Regions from separate parts of the Homo sapiens genome. Here regions 2 and 3 are each linked to region 1. Evidence: fine-mapped expression QTL. A gene starts in region 1. Each other region holds a variant in brackets. All regions are shown on one strand. Distances are from middle to middle. Region 1 holds the start of SH3KBP1 (SH3 domain containing kinase binding protein 1). Region 2 overlaps SH3KBP1 (SH3 domain containing kinase binding protein 1). Region 3 holds the start of EIF1AX-AS1 (EIF1AX antisense RNA 1).

Region 1 (8,276 bases):
GACTTCATGGTTCTCAGCAGCTTGCTCTTTCTCTGTCACTCTCTCTTCCCTTAGTATAGCATTTCAGATGTCCATCGTGCTTAGCATTGAACAACAGTCCAGGCTATACCTGGTTGATATGAAGTAGCCACAGATATACCTAGAAAGCCATTTTCCTCCCCCACTGCCTCCGATTCCCTGCCCCTGCCTGTCACATAGTTAACTCGGAGAAAGAGCAGTTCTTCTGGCTGGGAGCTGGCCAGGCACCCACAGCTGGGCCAGGGTGTCCTGTTGAACAGAAACAATTCCCTAGAAAACCAACATCAGACAAGGCCACTCTGCGACCAGGATGGAATAAGATGAAAACAAGACCACACATTAATCATGTCTGAACACGGACAAAACATGCACCTTGTCCAAACCACACACATGACCAAATATCCCCCAATCCTGGATAATGCAAATGACTGCTGCTGCTTTACCAACCATAGCTGTGGCCTGCCTCCAATGTTCCCTGCTCCTAGAGAACATTTGTTAAAATACCCAATCACAAATTCCCCCTGGTAGCATCCAATCCAAAGTAATGCCCAGCTTCCTTAAACACGCCCTCAAGCCACCTGACACAGGTGCAAGCCCTCTAAGTCATCCTTCCTTGTACCATCTTACTGAGATGCCCCGCGGTTCCCACGGTGCTCGTTTTCAGTCTCTGCCACAAGAACCAGGTGTGGCTGGAGGGCAGTGATGACTCATACTCAACCAGATTTCTGCTCAAACACAATCTCCTCTAAGACACTGTCCTGGGCACTCTCCAGGCTAAGTCAGATTGGCCTTCTCCACTCATCTTTCATGCGCTCTACTATGGCTTTCAGCTACATACTGCCATGAGAATTGCATTCAAGTCAGCCTTCATTAGACTGAGAAGCCCAAAGTGTCATGTCTCTGTTCTGCACCTGTTCTTAGCACAGTGCCTATGCAAAGAAGATCAACAAACATTGGATGGATGGATGGATGGATAGATGAACAAATACTGCTGTATGCAAAATACATTAAAAACAACTACAAACTCAAGAGTTGATGAGAGAATGTCAGTAACGCCAAAAGAACTGAAGTAGTAAGAGAAGAAACCACCAAGGTTTGTGTAACCAGAGCCACAGCAAGCTTTTGCTCGTGCCAAGATGGATAGAAGTGGGTAAAGCTTATGTACAATTAAGGTGGGAGCCTTTTCTTCCATTTCTAACTCAAGACATTTGTACAGACCAACACATTATGTTCATTTTAGCTTTAGTTTAGCATACAGCAGTCTACCGCCAATACAATAAATACATTGCCAAAGGCTATCCAAACTTTGTTGTTACTCTGGAATTAAACAGAAATCATTTGTGGGCTTGCAAACCCTTCACTACTCACAGATTTGGGTCACCATAATATCTGTTTAATTGTAATTATAAGAGGCTTTCTCTGTGTCTGGCACTGTAGGCATGCATCTCCTAGCAAGTTCAGAGGGCACATTCTGATGGGCTTTTATAAGAGGCCATGTTGCAACTAACCAGCTTCACTTCAGGGTTAGGGATTTGGTTCTTTTCTGTTATTTTTCAGAAAACGAAATATAAGATACAGTTTTACTATGTTATCCATCAAGAGAAAACTCATTATCAGGCCAGGTAAGAATATAAGTGTATCAGAATCAGGCACAGTGGTGTGAGCGTGCAGTCCCAGCTACTTGGGAAGATCTGGAGTCCAGGAGTTCAAATCCATCCTGGGCAACACAGCGAGACCCTCCCTCTTAAAAAAGAATAAAATTGCATCAAATTGATAAACTGGATAAATCTGAAAACCAGAGACTTGGGGGAAAGGGTGGGCCTCTGTCTGCATACACACAACCTCAGCCCATTAGATCACTCCATTGGAAGACATACAGAATGAACCGTTAAATAACTGCACTTCATTACAAATATACTGCTGGAGATGCTTTCAAAAGAGCAGGTGATTTTTAGCCACAAACTACTATAAGCACCTTAAATCCCACTATAAACATGAATTAAATTACATTCGTTTTGACATTATCACCTCTAAGTATTAACTCCTGAAATAAATGAAAATCGATGCCCCCTCCCCCTGCAATAATGGTTGCAGTAAAGATTAAGTACAAAAGGACTAAAAACTACAGGAGCACTCTATTTTTCGTAGGAAGTTCTGAAGAATGAAAACAGTTCAAATCTGAAAAATAGGTCTGATTCTTCTTAAATGAGACTCAGTCCCCTTCTCATTGAGATACAGAAAGCACAGTCTGGCCATGGGAGAAGACATTTGGATTAACTTCTTTTTGTGCATAACCCTCTCGGTGACCCACCCAAAATGAAAGGTGATCAAAACAGAATTTTTGGTTACCTCGGGAGAAATTAACCCATTACTAAAGTGGCCTGTAAGGTTTAAAGTATATACTTCTGCCAATGAACTAAATCATCTTATGGGCCAAAGCAAAACAAGAGTGAGCTAAGTGTTCTGTCCCCAGCAGAGGAGGAGGATTTCATGCCCCTCATTCATTCATTCAACAAATATTTAGGTCCTGCTCTGTGCCACACACCAAAAGTGCTGAGCAAACTATGCAACACTGTGCTGTCCCTATGGTCACAGAGCTTACAGTAGAGGAGATAACTGTTACGCACAAATATGTAATACTGCTACGAAAAAAAAAGGTGTTGTATGAGAAAATGGAACAGGAACCAATTTAGACTACAGGTGGGAGAGAAGGGCACTGTGAAAAAAGTGACATTTAAGCCAAGGGGACAACAGATCACCACTACTTAGAAAAGGAAAACCTTTTTTGGCAAATGACCACAAATGGGATTTTAACTTTGCCTGTCAACAACGGACTGGGTTAAACCTCCTCTTTTCCAATCCTTCAGGCTTTCTGAACATCCTGACTAGTGTACTGGAATCCTATTACCTGAACACAGAAAGGTCTCACTTTATTATGATTTATTATTATCTGCAGCCTTCCTATGCCTGGCCTAGGAACATCCAAAAATAATCTGCCAGAGGCTGAAAAACAGAAGCTGGCTGTCAGCAAGAACATTACCTGGGTAGACCAAACATTTAATAGCCCAAGTAATCATAAGTGCCTTGCCAATAAAGTGGCAGCTTCTCTGGGCAGCAAGGTGGTTCCAATGCTCCGGGGTCTAAATCAAATGGGACCCAGGGGGTTCAAAGGTTAGTTGGCTACTTCGAACTGATGTTTACTCAGTAAATCAAAGACCGGATCACCATTTCCAGGTCCCAGACCCTGAAGACTTAAAGGACAGTATGGGAAGTGGCCTTTTAGCATCACGGAGCAGAGAGCTCGCCAGGCTGGAGGAAGGCAGCAGCGAAAGGGTCGGGGCCGGGAGGAAGGGGGGCGCAAGGAGAGGAGCGTCAGGTGCTCTGGACCCCGGGACTGCGAGCCAGACCAGGAACTGGGGCGTTTCCCGCCCCACCCCCCAACCCCTGTCAACCCCCAGCAAAGGCAACCCAGCCCCCTCCAAGACCCCGAGGTTCCAGCTTCCCCCGAGACAGGACCAGGAAGACACCAGCAGCCCCGCGCAGGGCCGGAGCCCACCAGGTCCGGGTGCCCGTGTCCGCAGCGCAGAGGAGGGCGCGCTCGGGTGCAAAAATGGCCAAGACAAAACTCTCCCCGCCCACCCGAAAAACCAACCACACCCCCTGCATCCCTCAGCCCGAGCCGCCCGGGGCCAGCCCCCGTGATCGTCTGCTCAGGCCCCCGCGGGTTCCCGTCGGCGCCGCGCGCGGGCTCGGCGGGCACACGGGCGCAAGTGGGAGTGAATGGGGGTGCGCGAGGCAGGCGAGGGCGCCCACCGCGGTGTCCCCCGTCCGGACCCTGCCCCCGGGGCGCCCTCCCGGGCTCCGCGGTTCTGGGACTGGCGCGCCGCCCTCAAGGCTGAAGTGGACGCCCGGACGCGGGCGGCCCCCACTCACCCATTGGCGTCGAGCCGGGCCGGGCCGCCGAGGCAGCGTGAAAGTTGGCGGAGGCGGGCGTGGGGGTTGGGGCGCCGGGATCGGGGCGCTGGGATCCAGGCGCGAGGGTCCGGACGCGGCGGCGGCTGGGCCGGCTTCTTCCTCAGTGGCGGCGGCGGCGGCTCAGCGCCGCCCGCTGCTGCCTCTGCTGCTGCTGCCGCTGCTGCCCCGGGGCGACTCCTGCTGCTGCTGTTGCATCGCGGCCCAATGCGCCCGGCTGCGCCGGGTTTCCTGCTCCCCGCGAGTGGAAATTGCGAAAAAAAAAAAAAAAAAAAAAAAAAAAAAAAAAAAAAAAAAAAAAAAAACAGCGCCGCCCAGCCCAGCGCCCGGCAGCCGCGGCCGCGCCGCCCGCTCTCCCCTCCTCCTCAGCGCTGCCGCGAGGCTCCTGCAGCTCCGCCTGCCGGGGACGCGCGGCCGCCGGGCGGGGGCGGGGCCGGAGAGGGGCGGGGCCGGGGCCGGGGCCGCGTCGGGGCAGGCGCCGGGGGCGTCCCTGCGGCTGAGGGGCTTGGGCGCCCTCCTCACCGCCCGCGCCAGAGGCACCCCTCTCCGCGCGGCTGCCACCCACCCGCAGCGGCTGGGCTGACGCCCCGGGAAGTGCCGCGAGACTCCTCGAGACCGGAGGAGAGGGGCTTCTTGGGGGAGGGGCGTGGGAGTGCAGGGGCACGTGGAGAAGGAGGAGAAGGGGGCTGAGCGGGAGGGGGCGACAAGAGGTGGAGGACGGGCTGGGGATGGAGACCAGGGCAGGCCCGGGGCCAAACGCCTGACCAGGGTGATGGCAGGTGGCCCTGGGGCATCGAGGCAATCTGGAATGAGTTTTCCCGGGGGGCTGTTGGAGGGGAAGGAAAAGGGTCCCTTGGAAGGGAGAGAAACGCGGCGTCCCTTCGGTGGGGCGTGGGAACGCAGGCAGGCCAGGTGCGAGTTCCGCACAGAGGAGGCGGTGGCACTGACGTGGGGAAAAACGGGCGAAGGACGCAGCGGGGCCGAGGGGACGCATCGCCTCGCTGGGACCCGCCTAAGCCCCGCCCCAGTGCCTGGGCCAGGTGCGGTTCGGGTGTTCAGGAATGTTCCCGAGCTCTGACGTTCCCAGGAATCCGCTGAGATGAGGGCTGGCTCCCTCCCTAGCAGGCATTATTGTGCCTTACTGACTCCCAGACCTGGACGGCCGACCCTTGAGTGGGCGCTAAAATGTTAACAGGGAATCCGTGGGCATTCGTGGGCAATTCAGAAGCTCCGTTTTGGGTCCATTCACCACCACACCTTTCGCCATAGATACTCTGCCTGCCACCACATTCCTCTACCGGCCCGTTATTTCCTTTTCCCTTTCCACCATCTGGTGGTAGGAAGCGATAGTGAACTACATGGGAGACATTTAGGCAAAGAGCACGTAAGACAATAGAGAAATTACATCAGTGGCCCCTGGAAATGGAGGAGGCTGAGGGCTAGTGGACTCAAAAGGGACAAATGAAAGCCGACCCCCTACCCAAGAGAGGGGCTGTCTCCATACCTCACCTGTGTTGGCGGGGCAACTCTTGTAAATTGGTTACCGTCCTGGGATTTCTGTAGAAAATTGTTCTTATAACTGTTTCATGAGTTTTTCAAAAAACCTCAAAGTCAGGGTCTTACAAACAAGAGATCAGTAGCATCATCTTTCTAAATACCGTTCATGTGTGTCAAACCGATCGAAATAGGAGACTAATCAAGGGACAAGAGGCCCATCCACACAGAGGCTGCAATTGAAGTCCTAGTGTCATCAATATCAGACTCCTAAAAAAGGGATCAGAGAACACGGAGATTAAGAATGTGAAGGCCGGGCGCGGTGGCTCACGCCTGTAATCCCAGCACTTTGGGAGGCCGAGGCGGGCGGATCACGAGGTCAGGAGATCGAGACCATCCTGGCTAACATGGTGAAACCCGGTCTCTACTAAAAAATACAAAAAATTAGCTGGGTGTTGTGACGGGCGCCTGTAGTCCCAGCTACTCCGGAGGCTGAGGCAAGAGAATGGTGTGAACCCGGGAGGTGGAGCTTGCAGTGAGCCAAGATCGTGCCACTGCACTCCAGACTGGGCGACAGAGCGAGACTCCGTCTCAGAAAAAAAGAAAAGAAAAGAATGTGAAGTGGGCCAGGCACGGTGGCTCACGCCTGTAAACCCAGCACCTTGAGAGGCCGAGGTGGGCGGATCACCTGAGGTCAGGAGTTCAAGACCAGGCTGACCAACATGGCGAGCCCCTCTCTCTACTAAAAATACAAAAATTAGCCAGGCGTGGTGGTGCATGCCTTAGTCCTAACTCCGTGGGAGGCTGAGGCACAAGAATTGTTTGAACCTGGGAGGTGGAGGTTGCAGTGAGCCTAGATGGCGCCACTATACTCCAGCCTGGACGACAGAGCGAAAAACTCCGTCTCAAAAAAAAAAAAAAAAAAAAAGAATGTGAAATGTTGAAGGCAGGGATGATGAATACTCAAATATTCCTCCTCCAGGCACCCTGGTGCCTCACTCATTACATGTCTTGTTATATCATGTTCTAATCAGGGCAATCAAGCCTTCTGATACCATCTTAGAGTTGACAAACACTGAAACTCACAGAGCCTGGATAAACCCTCTGCTACTGGGACATTTTTTTTCCCCCAACCCCAGAAGAACTGGTATGGGGGTCTGCTCAATTCCAGAGGTGGTTCTCTTTGGTAAGGCCGTATCAGTGGGTCATCCTAACCCTCTCTCAAAGAGCCTCAGACCCCTGAAAGTGATGGGGTACATTTCAACATGGCAACAGTTGTGCTGGCCTTGCAGTGGACTGTTATCTGGAGTGCTGAAGATTCTTGGCTGGTTGCCCAGTGCATTCTCACAATGATGAGTCAAAAGTCTTTGAACATTGTTGATGATACCTTCCCATAGCTAAACTTACCCAGGCATCACAGAGGCCACTACACCTAAACCAGCAGATGGGGTGCGGGAACCCTGTCGGCTCAAAGAAAAAGAAAAAATCAGCAGTTTGTCTTATGTCCTGCTTGGTCTCTCTGTCCTATGTGGAGAAGACAGTCTTCTCATGGAATTTTATTTCCAACTTCACACAGGTGAACACAGATCACTTGAAATTTGGGGGGTTTGTTTCGTTTTGTTGTCTTTTTTTTTTTTTTTTCTGAGACAGGGTCTCACGGTCACTCAGGCTGGAGGGTAGTGGCGTGATCATGGCTCACTGCAGCCTCAACCTCCTGGGCTCAAGTGATCCTCCCACCTCAGCCTCCCAAATAGCTGGGACTACAGGCACGTGCCATCTCACCCGGCTAATTTTTGTAGTTTTTGTAGAGATGAGGTCTCACTATGTTGCCCACGCTGGTCTTAAACTCCTGGGCTCAAATGATCCTCCCCCGCCTCGGTGTCCCAAAGTGTTGGGATTACAGGCTGAGCCACTGCGCCCGACTTGCTTGAAGTTTTGAGTCTTGTTTATTCTCTGGTCTATTTCAAGGCATATCTTTTCCTTCTTGGACAGGAATGCGGTGTCGCTCCTCCTTGATCTGCTTCCTGCGTGGTCAAATTTGCGTTACCACAAAAGAAAGACTGATGGCAAGACAATATTTTTGAAAATCCCTGAGCTATGTCCTAATTTTATTTTTTATTTTTTTGTTTTTGAGATGGACTTTCACTCTTGTTGCCCAGGCTGGAGTGCAATGGTGGGATCTTGGCTCACTGCAACCTCCACCTCCCGGGTTTAAGCGATTCTCCTGCCTCAGACTCCCGCGTATCTGGGATTACAGGCATGCGCTACCACGCCCAGCTAATTTTGTATTTTTAGTAGAGATGGGGTTTCACCTTGTTGGCCAGGCTGGTCTTGAACTCCTGACCTCAGGTGATCCACCCGCCTTGGCCTCCCAAAGTGCTGGGATTACAGACGTGAGCCATCGCACCGGGACATGTGCCCTAATTTTAATGCCTTAACTAAACAAAGTTGTGGTGATTCTATCCAAAACACTATAGTTTATTTTTCATTTTAAGTTTCTCTGACTTATGAAAATGAACCTTCCATTTTTTCACTTATTGTTTAGTTCTTCTGAATTGTTCCTATTGTCCTTTCATTTTTCCTTGGAGAAACTTTTGCTGACCAGCACAAGGGAAGTTAATATCAAGATTCAGATCCAGCTGCTGACATGAATAGATGCATAATTTCTCATCCTGCCTCCCTCTTACAAGAGTATCTTTTAACAAAATGGTTATTGCAATATTTCAAATGATGTAAATTCATCTCATGAATATTTCTAGAGAAATAGGATTTTATTTAATACATCTTTGTCC
Region 2 (8,000 bases), 300 kb before region 1:
GGGTCAGGGGTCGTAGCCACACATGAGATATACATACTTGAGGCCGGCACAACATCCAGGGGGACAAAGAGGGACACGCCACCTGCATTTCCAGGCTGAAGGGCAGTTGGCCTTGCTTCTAATAAGGCCCAGGAAAAACCCCTGTGTGTGAGCAGGGCCTAAATGCTGGGTACCCAGTCCTCATGAAACCCACACCGCACCCCTCAACCTCACACTCACTCCTGCCTGAGTGCAGGAGCAAGGACAGAAGTGGCCGGTGTCTTCAGATAATTTTGCTGGAGGATGTAAGAGGGAAGCTTGAGCACCCCCTTCTCCTCTCCCTTCCTCCCAAGGTCTGTGGCAGTCAGTTCCCCTCCTGTGTTCCTTCCATAGCCACCCCACACCCGCCCCGGAGGTGAGAGCACAGCAGTACCTGGTGTGTGTCAGCGGACCCACCGGTCTCTCCGGCCTTCTCGGGGGCAGTGCGCCAGGTCTGCTGAGAGAATTGGTCTTAGGTGGCCGAGGCTTTTTTGGCGGTATGGCAGGAACGGAGGGCTTCTGTAAATCCAGTTTTGGCTCTCTCTCTGGTCTTTCTTTAAATCATTGTTTAAAGAAAACAGATAGATCGAGTGTAAGTGACAGTACTTAGATGCAGATCACTCATTTCCTGCTAAAAAAAAAAAAAATTACTGATGCTATTTCTGAAGGTGATCATGGAAGGCCAAGAGCACCACTTATTCTTTGTCAGGTTAGAAGAAGTCCCACAGAGCTCACTGTTCCCTCCCTTGCACACCTTCACTCATGCTGGTCCTTCTGCCTGAAGCGCCCTTCTGGCCACCGCCCACCTTCAGCATACTCCAGCTCTTCCTTCGAAGCCTGGCTGAAACGTGACACTGCCATGTTCCCTTCCCAACAGCTCAAAGGCAGACTTCCTTCCTTCCTCACCTGAGCATTACAGGGCAGCGCTTTACAAACACGCTCAGACACTTTCTGGGTGTTTGCATGTTTGGCACAGCCTGTAGGCCGACAGCCCCTGAGGGCAGGGCCCAAGTCTGGTCATCTCCTCAGAGCTGTATGTGGTGCTGGCATGGAGTCAGGGCTCAGCAGAGGGCTGAGGGGTTTGGTCAATGGCCCACGGGACCTGCTGGGTATGGGAAGGAAAGAGGCCTGACACGTCTCAGGCTGGCCTCTGAAAAGGGCCATGAGCAAATAAAAGGGAGAGCATTTCAGGGAACAATGAGTTCTGGATTCTTCTTGCGCACAAGAAGTTTGAACTTGGAAGGCAAACTAGGACTTCACAGGTATAAGGTTTCCAAGGCTTTTTGGAGTCACAGATATTAGAATGAAGTTGAAGCCAGATCTGTTGGCCGAACGGGGGCAGTGTTCAGTGACAACCTCATATTTTCTGTTCCCAACTAGCCTTGCTCCGTGTGTGGCATAAAAAGCATACATCCACATTCTTCTTGATAAAGATGGAACTTGAGAGAGTTGCCCAACGGACTATAGGCAGGCTCCCTATGCTTACTTGTAAGATGGTACTCAGGACACCTTCTACTTGCAAACACAGACTCATGTTGTTTGGGTGCCCAGATGGTTGGCAAAAGGTTAAAAAAAAAAAAACCCATCAGGGCTGGGCGCGGTGGCTCACATCTGTAATCTCAGAGCTTTGGGAGGGCAAGGCGGAAGGATCACTTGAGGCCAGGAGTTCAAGACCAGCCTGGGCAACACAGTAAAACCCCGTCTCTACAAAAACTAGCCGGGCATGGTGGCATACACCTGTAGTCCCAGCTATTCGGGAGGCTGAGGCGGGAGGATCTTGAACCCAGGAGTTCGAGTCTGCAGTGAGCTACAATCGCACCACTGCACCCCAGGCTGGGTGACAGAGCAAGACCCTGTCTCTAAAAAAATAAAATAAAAATAAACCCATCAGGTACTATTATGCTCATCCCCACAATGTGGGGAAATATGCTCCAATCAGGAATGCTGGCAACTCATTTTATGGCACACAGGGGCCAGAGGAGGAAGGGCTCTGTTGAAATGCAAAGCAGGGGACATTTCTCCTATTGCAGCAGGACAGGGACAGGAACTCCAGCAGCCTGCTGGATGAATGGAAAAGGGAGTTTGTGCTGACCCAACAGGGAAACCAAGTATCCGGGTAGGGCTGATTCCCTGGCTTCCCTATTGCATCTGACCAGGGATTCTACGTCCCTCACCCGCTGTGGCATATAACAAGGGATCATGGGAGAGGAAGGAACCAGAGATGTGGGGCCACTTGGTCAGCCAACTAGGGTGGTTGTTCACATGTAAGCCTAGTCCATATGTCAGCATGGACTAGTGCAGGAAGTGTCCCCATCACGGAGCCTGGCTATTACCCAGAAACTAGCCATGTGTCCTCCATGAGGACAGAGGGTGGTGTCTGGTTATTTCACATCACACACTTTTTTTTTTTTTTTAGACAGGGTCTCACTCTGTTGCTCAGGCTGGAGTACAGTGGCATGGTCACAGCTCACAGCAGTCTTGATTTCCAGACTCAAGCGATCCTTCCACCTCAGCCTCCCAAAGTAGCTGGGACTATGGACACAGGCCACCAGGCCTGGCTATTTTTTTTTTTTTTTTTTTTTTTTTTTTTTTTGGTAGAGACAGGGTCTTGTTATGTTGCCCAGGCTGGTCTTGAACTCCTGGGCTCAAGTGATCCTCCCGCCTCAGCCTCCCAAAGTACTGGGATTACAGGTGTGAGCCACTGTGCCTGGCCATACCAATGCTTTTATACAAAGAGTTATTCATATAGTATATACTCAATGGCTGGTTTTTTTCTTCAATCCGTGACACAGACCTGGCCTTCACAATGAGGTTCCACAAGTCAAGTTCTAACTGCTCACTGTGAAAGAAAGAGGTATAGCTTCTTAAGAGCTGGCAATGTTGGTAAAATTTTTGGCAGGCTGATATCAAATATCAAATTTCACAATAAAATTTCATGAGGCCACCAAGGAGCACCTCCAAATAATTACATTCATTAATTCAGCATTTCTCTTGTGACTTAAAAATAACTGCTTTTTAAAATGGGATTTGCTCAGCCTCCTGTTCGTAATAACATAGCACTTTTCCCATAAAAATGTGTGATCAATCAAATCCTAGACACCTAATAAAATGAGTCCTTCTACAGTATGCAGAATTCTTTGGGAGAGACTCTCAAAATGGTAGGAGTCAAACGCGTTCATAAACCTGATTGCAGGACACACATTAACCTACTTTCCTGCCAATGACACTCCTGACCACCTTCAGGAGACGCTGGGGACCAAGCTGCTTTCCCAGTATTACCATGCCACCCTCCCCTCCTCCAACATCCTTGACCAAGGACTTCTGTCTGTAATAACGTTACCCAGAGTCAAGGGTCCATGAGTGACCAAAGAAAAGAGCTTTCATTTGTTTATTTATCTGGACGTGAATTTCACTATGCCAAATCCATCCATCAACAGTGAATGAGCACCTTGGGACACTAGGCATGAAGGACAGGCTAAGTGGAAACTGACAGATATATACCAGGCCCTAAAGGAACTTACATCCGACTTCAGGGTGCAGAGAGGGTGGCCATGGTAGAGACATCAGGAAACAGCAGCAATGTGTTAATTGACTAGACTGGTTATTTTTCATCTGATGAGAAATTGTGGTCCCACGAAGTACCACATAACCCTCTCCTACTTCCTTAGCAATAGGATTTGTAAAAGCAATCAAAACAAAACCATGATCACCATATTCCAAAGGAAAAGCAAATTCTGTGGGTATTCTGGACTAGCCGTGTAACAGACAGCTTCAGCTCCTGCTGTTCTGGAAGTGCCAATGAAGAATTGATTTCATACCTTTTTCTTCTGTTCTGTTTGGAAGCATTTCTGGTCTTTCAGGAGGTATCTTTTTAATTTCATGTTTTCTCTCAGTGGTGCCTAGGAGGGAAAGGGTAATAGTGATCACAAAATGTTTTCTGTACTCAATTATTACACCCACCAGCATTTAAATCTTTATCAGGTAGAGCAAAGTCAGTAAGATTTTTTCCCCTGAGTTGGGCGTTAGCATTATCTGGCAAGCACGAGCTGTTTAGAAACAGAGCAGAAGACATTTCTGGCCTATGTCATTAAGTTCACCTGCCTATGTATCCTTAATTTACAAGAATACCACTAATAATATTTTCTGATATTTAAGCCTGATTTCCTTAGGCATCAATATAGTCACAGGAAATCACCGGGTGGGGGTGGAGAATGTGTATAAATAAATGTCAATTATCAAACTTTACAAATAAGGGGCCACTGAATGTTGTGTTCTACCAAAAAAAGGGGGTTTCATAGGAATCTGGATCCCATTTTGTAGCCATTTTAAAACAGGGCCTGGAATTACCTGATACTCCTCCCAGTAAGAGGTGAGGTCTACATCCCCTTGCCAGGAATGTGGGTGGGCCTGTGACTGCTTCAATCAGTGGCAGGAATGATACCACATAACTTCCAAAGCTGAGTCATAAAAGTCCCTGTAGTTTATGCTTTATTTGCTGGAATACTGAACTTCCATGTAAGAAGTCAACTACCCTGGAGAGGCCACATACAGATGCTCCAGCCTATAGCCCCAGCTGAGCCCAGCCTTCCAGGCACCCTTGCCAAGGGGAGCCAGACACGTGAGGGAAACATTCATCTTCAAAGTGGATCCTCCAGCTTCAGCTAGTTCAGTATTCCCAGCTGAGGTCCCAGATATGACGGAGCAGAGACAAGCCAGCCCAGCCATGGTCTGTT[C/T]TTGACCCACAGAATCCATGAACATAAGAAGGCTGTTGTTTTATGCCACCAAATTTGGGGTCCTTCAAGTATTACATTTTTTCAAATGTACCACTTAGCACTTAGCCTTTACCCACATGGACTGCAGCTGCTCCCTTACCTGGGGTTTCCTCATTGGTGCCAGTGGCCTCAGGCATGTAAGAGCACTTGAGAAATAGCTAAAGCACAAACCAGTCAAAAGTACTCCTCTTATGTATGGACTGGGCTGAGTTCTTAACAAACTCTTTACATGACCAGTTCCAAAGATGGGTGCTTGGTACTAGAAATCTCAATTACACAACCTCAGAGAACAAAAGAAGTTAAAAAAAATATCCACCAAACACATCCTTTACTTAATTCCTCTTAATGACTCACTACAAATTAATCACCACATCTCATTTCTGTCAATTTCATATCTGATTTTTTTTTGGTAAAATAATCAAACGCAAGGAAAGTTGACGAGGGAGAAAATATGAATATCTATCTCCCCATTACAAAGCAGTTCCCACGATCATTCAGGCAGGATAAATGAGCAGTAATCTATAAACATTAAATGCCATCCTGCTTTGCCCCACAGAGACCCATCATAAACTTTGGTAAAATTGTTTTAAAAGGGTAAGAATTTGCCTACCATGCTACAATCTACTCACCTAACAATAATGAAGTCGGTATCATTCCTAGAGACACAGAAAGAACTGACAATCCTATTATACTGAAGAATCCAATCTTAGCTACATTCTAGACTGCCTGAGCCTTGGACTCCTCAACTAATCTCCACGGTCTCTGATCAATTACCAAGGCCTACAGGGAAAGGGGTCTTCAGAGAAAAGTAAATAAATAGCTTGCTTCAATTTCAGCACAATAAAATATATGGGCAGAACCACTAGGTGGCAAAATGAAACTGCTCAATGCAAACAAGGATGGGGGCGGAGCAAAAGATGTAATTAACATCCCATTTCAGGACTTAATCTCTAATAATTCTCAACTATGCCAAAGGGAATGGGAAAGGAATTTGGGGTCAAGTTTTTCCTCTTAACTTGGTGGGCCAAAAGAACTTAAAAATCACTTCTTAATAAGTTTATAAATAAACCAATCTTGAAATTTATTCATAATTTAACTGTTATAGAAATATAATTGTGAATGTGTAGAACTAAAAATACCCTTTCTCTTCTATTTTAGTTGTTAATTTTTTAAAATGCTACTTAACTAATAACTCATGGAGGAATTTTTCCCTATAATTAATTTTAACTATTATAAAGAGGAGTTCTACCGGGAAATATGAAATATCTTTTTATATATGAGAATCCAGTGTGAAACAAGCTACCAAATGTTCAACATCAATTCTTCCTATATTATTCAACCTGAATATCTGAACTACACAGAAAAAAAGTGAATTAGACTCTTCAAAATTAAACAAGAATCATAAGGAAAAGTATTTATTGCTAGAAAAACATCTTTTTGTTGAGGGGTAAGTGAAGTCAGTACAAATTTTGGTTAACCACATGGGACAGATATCGAAAATTCAGCAACACTATATACGCACAACAATGCTATGACCTGTGGGAAACAATCTTCCCTAAGCTGACCTTCAACTGGGCACATGAGAAACAGGGCAATTCAGTTCTTTTCTCCTCAAAAGCTGTTTACTTAAAAAAACCCAAACTTGTTTTTTTTGTTTGTTTGTTTGTTTGTTTTAATTCTTTCTGATCATTCTCATTGGGAGCCTAGATTTTTACACTATATCAGGGTCACATTTTAATGGTATGTTTATCTTTTAGGAAAAACAGAAGTATCTTTAAAACCTGCCTGCTGAGACCAAATCGTAACTTCCCAAGTAGTCAATCTATGGCACTTGAACCAGGAATCCCGAACTCTACACTGAGGATGATTTGAATATATGCAAAAAGAAAGACGCATATTTTATTTGATGGAACTGAAAGGTACATTACCTGCCCCTTGTTTGATGACAGGAGCGGATGGAGGCGGTGGCTTCTTGGGTCTCTGAAAAATTAATAAAAATTATACCACATGAGATTGTTGGCAAGCCTGTCCTCTCACAGAAGGACCACAGACATTGTTTTCTATGTGCAGTTTGGACAATTTAGAGAACCTCTCCAAAAAAATTGAGCAATTCTCTCTCCAGGGACGTCAGTTTTTGGCACCTCTAAACAAACACTAAAATAAATCCAGTCGGCAAAACAAAACTCCAATCGACAAATGAAACGCCATTTCCCCCTTTCTAAATTTGTAACAGCCTTCTGGAAAAGCACGGCTCAGCAAAAATGGCCTGAAACCAGCAAGCACAATGGTACTCCTACGCTGAAGCTGCATTTGCAATTAAGATTTAATCTGCTGAATAACCATGCATTCGAAAAGAGTCACTGTAAAGATTCAAAATTGAATCTGCTCTGGATGTAGGACTCTCAACAAAATGCAGGCTGAGGGCCCACTGCAGCCACATCAGGTTGCAAGCCTTCTGCCCCTTTCTACACCGAGGCTGGCAGGCCATTTGTTAGACACCCCACAGACTCATTGTACATGTGATAAACTGGAACAGAGAGGGATTTTTTTTGTTGTTGTTTTTTGGTTTGTTTTTTTTTTTTTTGCATATCAGCCGTGATTTGTTTTTCTCACATGCTGTCACTCTGTAGGTGATGGAGGTAGCAGTGCAATCAATGGCATTCATCCCTGAACTGGTTCCAGAGTAGCCAGCATTTTCTTGCCACCTAGGATTGACTGTGGGAGAGAGATGATCAGGCTGGACTTGGAAAATTATTCCATGGCCAAAAAATCCAGCCAGGGCACTGTTCTCAGACAGCTGTGTTAGGGGGAAGCAGTGATCTCTGATTCTGGGTGCATATGTGTGCGCACACGTGTGTGTGTCATTCTTAATGTTTTTCTGTATTGTCTCTATGAGTGCAGAGAAATATACTTTATTAAAATAAAGAAAGCTGCTCTAAGGGCCACCTGCCCTTACACACAGGTCCTCCATGGGATGGATGTGTTTCTGCCTCATGATCTCACATTATTCTTTCCCCTTTTGCCAGCCCCTTCTAGCTCTCTACTAACTCTTTTTCTTCCTCCCTTCTCTGTCGTTGTGTTAATTATCCTGGGGACAGATGTGTGTTTACCTAACAAAAGTATCAGTGAAGTTCTGCCAGTTAACCTTCCTTTACCTCGGAATCAGAGTACAGGCATACCTCAGAGATAACGCAAACTCGGTTTTAGACC
Region 3 (8,276 bases), 250 kb after region 1:
CCTTATCTATCGAACAGGAAATTACTTATTCTTCCTATTTCTGGGGTTATTGTTAGATCATAAGAAAAAAATGGACATTAAAATGGTATGAATTTAAAGCAAGCTTTCTCACCTCAGCGCTATGGATTATTGTGAGGCGGACCATTCTCTATTATGGGATGCTGTCCTGTGCCCACCCCAGCCTCTATCTACTACATGCTAGCAGCACTGCACCCATCCCCCAGTTGTGACAACCAGAAAAGTCTCCAGACACTGCCAATGTCCCTCGGAGGGCAAAACTGCCCACAGTTGAGAAACAATGGCTTAAAGTGAAGATTTAAATTATTTATTCTGGGTTTTTTTTTTTTTTAAATCAAAGTATGATCGAGGCTATACAAATAGAGATAGTATCATACAGGGATGATTTCCAATAGGTGGATGTCAAATGGATCTCACAGACCCACAATGAGTCTACAGAGTCAAGGGTTACCATCACGAAAGGCAACCACCACTTTCTTTCTTTCCCAAGTGCTCCTTTAGATTTATAGCACATACCTATGTTGTGATGTGTATTGTAATTACTTGTGTGCTTAACTCTCTCCACTACCAGGCTATGAGCCTTTTGTGGGATGGGCACTTAACTCATTCAGCTGTATCCCCTAGAATAATGGCTCCCAGATTTTGATTTAAACATAAATCCCTGGGATACCTAGCACAATGCCTGAAACAAAACTGGCTCTTAAGAAATGGCTCATCAAATTCAAGCCAGTAAAATAGGAAAAATTTACATGTAAATTTTACCTGGTAGTCTCGGAGACCAACCAAAATAATGTCCGAGGTATTTATCCAAACCTACAAAAGAAAAGTCACTGCCCGTCACATTTAAAATAACGAAGAATCAAGAAATTCCAGAGTAACAATCAATTAGTTTAGAAATTAAGAGATTTTAGGCCAGGAGCGGTGGCTCATGCCTGTAATCCCAGCACTCTGGGAGGCCAAGGTGGGCGGATCACCTGAGGTCAGGAGTTCGAGACCATCCTGGCCAACATGGCAAAAACCCGTCTCTACTAAAAAATACAAAAATTAGCTGGGCGTGGTGGCATGCCCTTGTAGTCCCAGCTACTCGGGAGGCTGAGGCTGGAGAATCACTTGAACCTGGGAGACGGAGGTTGCAGTGAGCCAAGACTGCGCTACTGCACTCCAGCCTGGGCAACAGAGTGAGACTCCGTCTCAAAAAAACAAATAAATAAACTTCTTTAAAAGAAAAAAAAAAAGAAAAGAAATTAAGAGATTTTAGTTTGGGCTGGCATTGTGGCTCACGCCTATAATCCCAGCACTTTGGGAGGCCGAGGCCGGCGGGTCACTTGAGGTCAGGAGTTCAAGACCAGCCTGGCCAAAATGGTAAAACCTTGTCTTTACTAAAAATACAAAAATTAGCGAGGCGTGGTGGCGCATGCCTATAATCCCAGCTACTCAGGAGGCTGAGGCTGGAGAAACACTTGAATCTGGGAGGCGGAGATTGCACTGAGCCAAGATTGTGCCACTGCACTCCAGCCTGGATGACAGAGTGAGACTCTGTCTCAAAAAAAAAAGAAAGAAAAAGAAAAAAAGATTTTAGTTTGGGAATAGAAGGATTAACATACCAAATTAAAAAAAATAAATACAAAATCAGAGTTGGGACTTTTAGTCAACCTGATTAATAAATCTGCCTGAATAACTACTGTGATGGTGAATTAATCATTACTTTCCAAGGCAGTCCATTCACGATGACATTCAAGAGATGCAACATTAATACAATGCTTATATAACTCATATTCAAATTTTCTGAATGTACACTTTACAGCTATATGTCCAATTCCTAAATCAGAATCCAAACAAGGGCAACCTACTCCATTTAACTGTCAGGTCTCTTTAAGTCTCCTTGCAACTAGAATAGTACCCCAGCTTTTTTTTTTTTTTTTTTTTGAAACTTTCATGACAGTAACATTGCATTAAGAGCTGGGCCATCTGGCTGGGTACAGTGGCTCATGCCTATAATCCCAGCATTTTGGGAGGCCAAGGTGGGCTGATTGCTTGAGCTGAGGATTCGAAACCAGCCTAAGCAACATGAAGAAACCCCATCTCTACAAAAAATACAGAAATTAGCCAGGCATGGTGGCACAGGCCTGTAGCCCCTGCTACACGGGAGGCTGAAGTGGGAGGATCACTTGAACCAATGAGGGTGAGGTTACAGTGAGCCCAGATCATGCCACTACTCTACAGGCTGGGTGATAAGAGTGAGACCCTGTATCAAAAAAAAGACAAGGAAAAAAAAAACTGGGCCGTTTGTTTTTGCAGAATGTCTCTCAATTTGGACTTTTTGGGCAGGAATACAATACAAGTGATACAAATGCTTCTTTAACATTAGAACCTGTATAAAATTACCATTACAGACCTTGCTATTTTACTTATAGGTAAATCACTGTTTACCAAGGTAAGTCTTTTGGGAATTTCCAAAAATGAAGTCCATGGACAGTTAAAAACTGTAGAGGGATTTTCCCCCTTAACCAATTTTATATTAAAGTAAAACAAATCACACCTACCTTTTTTCTCAATTTTCCTCTGATGTGACATAACCTCTTTACACCATCGAAACACATTGCTTCTAGCCGTCCATTTCCCAACATTTTGATTACCTGAGCATACTCTAGCGGGGAGAAAGGAAAAGGGTATGGAATATTGTTCAACTTTTGATAACAGCAACTTAAAGTCCACATAAAACTGTCAAGAGAATAAAGTTGCACCAGTTGGGAATAAATACATATAGTAAAACTATAAACAAACATAAGGGAGTGATAAACATCAAGTTAGTTAACGGCAGAGCTAGAACTAAGACTCTATGATGACATTTCTTTCTTTCTTTCTTTTTTCTGAGCTCAGGTCAAGTGTAGAAAACTTCATAGTTACAAAGGTCAGTCGTAAAACCTTTACATCATTGCCCAGAAATGATTAGGCTTTCATAGACATACATATGCACCCCCTCACCCCCAATCTCATTCATTCCTACAACTGCTACCTTTATAAACACGTGTGCGTGCACACACACACACACCCCCCACACACACACCAGACATATGCCCTTATTGTTTTACATTGTTTTATAGTTCTGCTTCTCAGAACTGTAGAGATCATGCATCAGGTAGACCGGAAAGCCTTCTGATGCTCAGATTTGGCTAGTTTCATCATTGATCCACTTCAGTAAAAGCAGATCTCAGAGAATGTAATGCCATTTCTATAATATACTGTCTCTGCTATTAGACATGTTTAAATTATCGACTCATTCTGAATAAGTAGATTGACTACCCCACTTTTGGCTCTCCTTTACCTCAGTACCTTTAGGTGCAAATCTCATAATTTTTAGTTCATTTAGCAAACAAAAACAAACTTCAAACAATGTCTTTGTTGAATTAGAATATGACTAATCCCCAGAGAGGATGTCCATTAATTTGTAAATATACTGAGACTTCATTTTGAAAGGCTCAACAGTGGGGATGACTTGTGGAAGTCAATTACTCAGACTACAGTGAGTTTAGCACCCATCTACCACCTCAACATGGTTGGTCAACTCAAAGGCAGCCTTTCTTCTGAAGTGAGGGAAAAAGTAATAATAAAACAGTGTATGCCCAAGTCAAGTCAGCTGCTATTTTAGAGGCAAGGATGACCAAGGCTAAGAAACCAAAGGACTTTTAGCCAGAAAACGTATCTCATGTTTACTGGTTTATATGTATGGCGTAATAAATCCACCCAAAGTTCTATTAAAAGCTAAAGTACTGGAAATAATTGGAATACCTGAGGAAATATGGAGTATATACTAGATATTATATCAATGTCAAATTACCTGAGTGTGATAATTCTCTTCTAGTTATATAAGAAAATATACTTGCACTTAGAAGATACATGATCAAGTAAGGGAAAAGTAACATGATGTCTCTAAATTTCAAATGGTCCTGAAGAAATCCTACATATGGGGCTAGGTGCGGTGGCTCACGCCTGTAATCCCAGCACTTTCGGAGGCCGAGACGGGTGGATCACGAGGTTAGGAGATCGAGACCCATCCTGGCTAACACAGTGAAACCCCGTCTCTACTAAAAATACAAAAAAAATACCCAGGCATGGTGGCGGGTGCCTGTAGTCCCAGCTACTTGGGAGGCTGAGGCAGGAGAATGGCGTGAACCCGGGAGGTGGAGCTTGTAGTGAGCCGAGATCGCGCCACTGCACTCCAGCCTGGG[C/T]GACAGAGCGAGACTCCATCTCAAAAAAAAAATTAAAAAATCCCACATATATATTTCTTTATATGTGTGTGTACAGATGAAGGATTTAAGGGAGTTTGTTGCACTAATACTGCAACTTTCTGTAGGTTTGAAATGACTCGAAATAAAAGTAACAGGAAAGGGCAAACGATCCAGTTAGGATTTATTTGACTAGTGCTATGTATCTTGGTCTGGCACTTACAATATTCTTCAGTCTAATAAAATCAGTTAACTGTTCAGTTTCATTTTATTGTAGTTTACGAAGTTATATGCTAATGGCACTGGAGAATGGAGAGGTCTATAAGGGCCTCAGGCTCATCCTTCAAATGTCCATGGTCTACTCAACATATTATATGTACCATTCACTACCAGAAATGCTAATCATAGAACTGCCAACTAAATCACAGAACTGTCAACCATAGCTCAATTCCCTCTGAACTATACGACACATTCTTAGTTCCCAGTACTTTGGGAGGTCATGGTGGGAGAATCACTTGAGCCCAGGAGTTCGAGAATAGCCAGGGCAACATATGAAGACCTCATCTCTATACAGTTTTTTTTTTTTTTTTTTTTTTTTTTTTGAGACAGAGTCTCCCTCTGTCACCCAGGCTGGAGTGCAGTGGTGTGATCTCGGCTCACTGCAACCTCCGCCTCCCAGGTTCAAACAATTCTCCTGCCTCAGCCTCCTGAGTAGCTGGGATTACAGGCACGTGCCACCACACCCAGCTAATTTTTGTAATTTTAGTAGAGACGGGGTTTCATCATGTTGGTCAGGCTGGTCTCGAACTCCTGACCTCGTGATCCGCCCGCCTTGGCCTCCCAAAGTGCTGGGATTACAGACGTGAGCCACTGCGCCCAGCCTAAAAAAATTTTTAAAATTAGCCAGACGTGGTGGTGTGTGCCTGTAGTCCCAAATACTCGGGAGGCTGAAGTGGAAGGACTGCTTCAGCCCAGGAGGTCATGGCTGCAGTGGGCTGTAATCGTGCCACCACACTTCACCCTGGGCGATGGGCAAGACGCTGTCTCAAAAAAATAAAGTCCCCAGCTAAAAAAGAAAGGATGTTATTTTAAAAAGCGTAATTTATGAAAACACTTACCCTGACCATCCTCTTTGAATACCAGTTCTCTTTTTTCAGATTCATTCTCATTCTTACCCCTGCGTCTGTTTTTACCTCCTTTACCTGATGGTTTAAAAAAAAGAAAAGGAGGTAAATGACATTAATTATCTGTAAAACAGTATGAAATAAAATGAAATTAAGGCTTATAAAACCATTTTTTAAAAGATCACTTAAATTAAAAAATTCATCTATTTTAGCTACACAATCATATTAAATTTACAATCTCCAATCCCAACATTAACACATTATCACCTCCCTACCCTTCTTGGAATTTCCTTTGGGGATTTTTCTGACATAAAATACACATAAATAGCAGATATTATGTTAAAAAATATAGAAAAACATTTCACTTTAGCACCCATCCTTTTGAAATAAAAATGCAATTCTATACATATTCTTCTAAGCGGAAATCTTGGGTGTCTTCTAAAGCCAGGCCCTATGCAAGGAACCCGATACTTTCAAAATTAAGTGAAGACAGTGTCTGGACAGAGAACTGTGGTTTTCAAACTTTTGGTAGCAGAGTACCATAAATATTGAAATCTCACTGGGTGCAGTGGTGTGCGCCTAGGGTCTCAGCTACTCAGGAGGCTCAGGTGGGAGGATCACTTGAGCAAGCCCAGGAGGTTCCAGGCTAGCCTGGGCAACATAGCGAGACACTGTCTCTTAAAAAATAAAGAAGATCTGTTCGGTACCCAATTTACTTTCTTTTATAATGCTGGTCCCTACTCAACATCCCTGTTTCTATTATATGACCCCAGTGACCATGCTCTTAACCACTATGCAATAATTCTGCCCATTTACTTGTCACAATCACCCCATGAGGTCATAACATTCATTTATTCCCAGTTTACCCATGAGTTCCCTGAAGCTCAGAGAAGTTAAGTAAGTCGCTTAGCTTCAGTGAGTAAATCAGTTCACTGATTACAGTCAGTAAGCTGGGGTGACCAAAGTCACAATGTTTTTTTTGCCCCTAGCCCCCACATAAGCTTACCTCTCCACAGCATTTTGCTCCCATTCCAGAAAGGAAACCACATTGGCAGCCATTTCCAAAAGGCAGGAAAAAGGCTGTAAGTGGTAATGACCCTAAGAGACTCATGGGAAGAGCTTGGAAGCAGCAAAAAAAAATGGAGGACACTTAAATTAGGTCATGAAAAGTACCATTCCTCTAAGTAAGATAACTAAGAACTGATTGGTTTCAGACAGTACAGGAATGATAAACACCAAACTCAGCCTGGTGATTACCTCCAAAAAGAGAGTAAAAGGTGATTAGGGCTTTACCTCAATCTGCGCTGTAATTCTTAAATTCAGAGTAATGGGTTCCCAGGTATATCATGTTAGCTGTATTTTTTGTATGCCTCAAATGTTATTTAAGAAAAGACTAATTACTTGTCAATTTACCAGAATTAACCATACCCGGATCACTCCCCTTTGTATTTTATTGCCATGTAATGGGATGTTCTTTAAATTCTCTGTTGAATGAATGAGACTAGGTCTGAGTGTACAACAATTAAAGTGACATCAACATTCTTTAAACCAGAGTTGTTTTGGAGAAATTCCCAGAGAGGCTCTTTCTTAAGACATGAGGCTAGGGAACTAGATGTGATTTAGTGTAGAAGTCCTATCCCCTTGGAACCAAAGCAGAACCTATTATTCACTAAGGGTGGAGTCGACAGGAGGTAGGTGACTTAAACCAACAAATATTTATTAAGCATCTACTAATTGTCAAGTGCTGGCAATCCAATGAGATTAAGACAGATACTATTCCTGCCTTGTAGAGCTTACAGCCTGGTGGAAGAATTGGAAATCTTATTACTAGAAATAAAGGTGAGAATAAGATGGAAGTGATCCCCTTACCACCTCAGAGAGAATAAAGGATTATACAGAAGAAAACTGTAAGACTTTAAAATTTTTTGTTTATAACTCCATCTTTTCCAAAATAATGAGCAGTGACTGCACCAACTTGTGCACAGAACACCTCGACCAAGTACCCTAAGGGATAAAGTAATAAGTGACAGCTACAAAGAGGAAATGTGGTAGAATCCCTGGAGCCAGCTGTCAAGTAGAAAAGAGAGCAGAAGTAGGCCTGTGTCAGGGGAGGGTTTCCTCTAGAATGAATAATCAAAGGAGACTACTTACGGACTATGAAGTATGCTCCTCTCCTGTAGGAAAATACAGTATTTTCCCTATATTTACTTGCACAATTTTCTTCAAGTTATACGGCTATTAAAAATGACAGGAACACTGTAAATCTATAAAAGTAATTTCTTTAGGAGTGTTCTGTTTTTTGTTTTTGTTTTTTTTTTTTTAAGATTAGGCCTTCCGTTTTGGAAATCCCAAATAAAGTTATCCTCAAGTCTGATCATTTGTGAACGCTTAGCCTCAGAATGGAGGACACTTAAATTAGGTCTTTATTCTCACAACATATGCATCATCTGAAGCAAAAGTAGAAAACTTGGCTCAATATGGAATAAGTCTTCAGCAAACAAACATAAGCTATATCCTGTAAAGGGATGGAGAGAGTAAATCTCTAGAGGTGAGCCTTAGAAATGTATCAAGGTTTCACCCACTGTTCACAAGGGACAGCGAGTAGCCTCAACAATACTGAACTGTCCATAAAGAAACCCATGCAGGAGTACCTGGTGCTCACGAATGCAGACAGCACTCTGAAAGTTCAGAACGGCTTCCAGGGATTATAACCCCTCATGCCCGGGAAGGCCAAAGGGGCCTATCTACTAAACCTAGGCCGCCCCGGGGAAGGTTCCCGCCACCGTCCCCACCGAGCAGCGGTCAGTCTGGCGCGAATCAGGAGCAAAAGCCCACATTCTCCCGCAGGAGGCCCTACAAAAATGGCGCCGGCTCCACCCCAATGTGACCAAACTGGGCAACAGGAGTT

What was found. PIP is the estimated chance that this variant, and not a neighbour inherited with it, causes the effect.
Region 2: its variant is fine-mapped to the expression of SH3KBP1 in sun-exposed skin (GTEx, PIP above 0.99).
Region 3: its variant is fine-mapped to the expression of SH3KBP1 in sun-exposed skin (GTEx, PIP above 0.99).

What each region holds. Positions count from the first base shown.
Region 1 is chrX:19,883,356-19,891,631 of GRCh38, forward strand. It overlaps SH3KBP1 (SH3 domain containing kinase binding protein 1), which reads right to left and starts at 4,245. Exons shown (of 18, transcript NM_031892.3): 1 at 3,952-4,245. The coding sequence starts at 3,955. RefSeq lists silencers at 3,647-3,786, 4,267-4,336, 4,397-4,696 and an enhancer at 6,862-6,911.
Region 2 is chrX:19,588,231-19,596,230 of GRCh38, forward strand. It overlaps SH3KBP1 (SH3 domain containing kinase binding protein 1), which reads right to left. Exons shown (of 18, transcript NM_031892.3): 10 at 6,719-6,770; 11 at 3,837-3,917; 12 at 413-572. Among named protein-coding and RNA genes, the nearest start is that of MAP3K15, 77 kb to the left of the region's middle. The variant C/T (reference allele first, on the strand shown) is at 4,752.
Region 3 is chrX:20,133,177-20,141,452 of GRCh38, forward strand. EIF1AX (eukaryotic translation initiation factor 1A X-linked) reads right to left here. Exons shown (of 7, transcript NM_001412.4): 2 at 5,363-5,446; 3 at 2,562-2,665; 4 at 781-831. It overlaps EIF1AX-AS1 (EIF1AX antisense RNA 1), which reads left to right and starts at 6,792. Exons shown (of 2, transcript NR_046592.2): 1 at 6,792-7,059; 2 at 7,159-7,268. It also overlaps SCARNA9L. RefSeq lists an enhancer at 7,904-8,063. The variant C/T (reference allele first, on the strand shown) is at 4,248.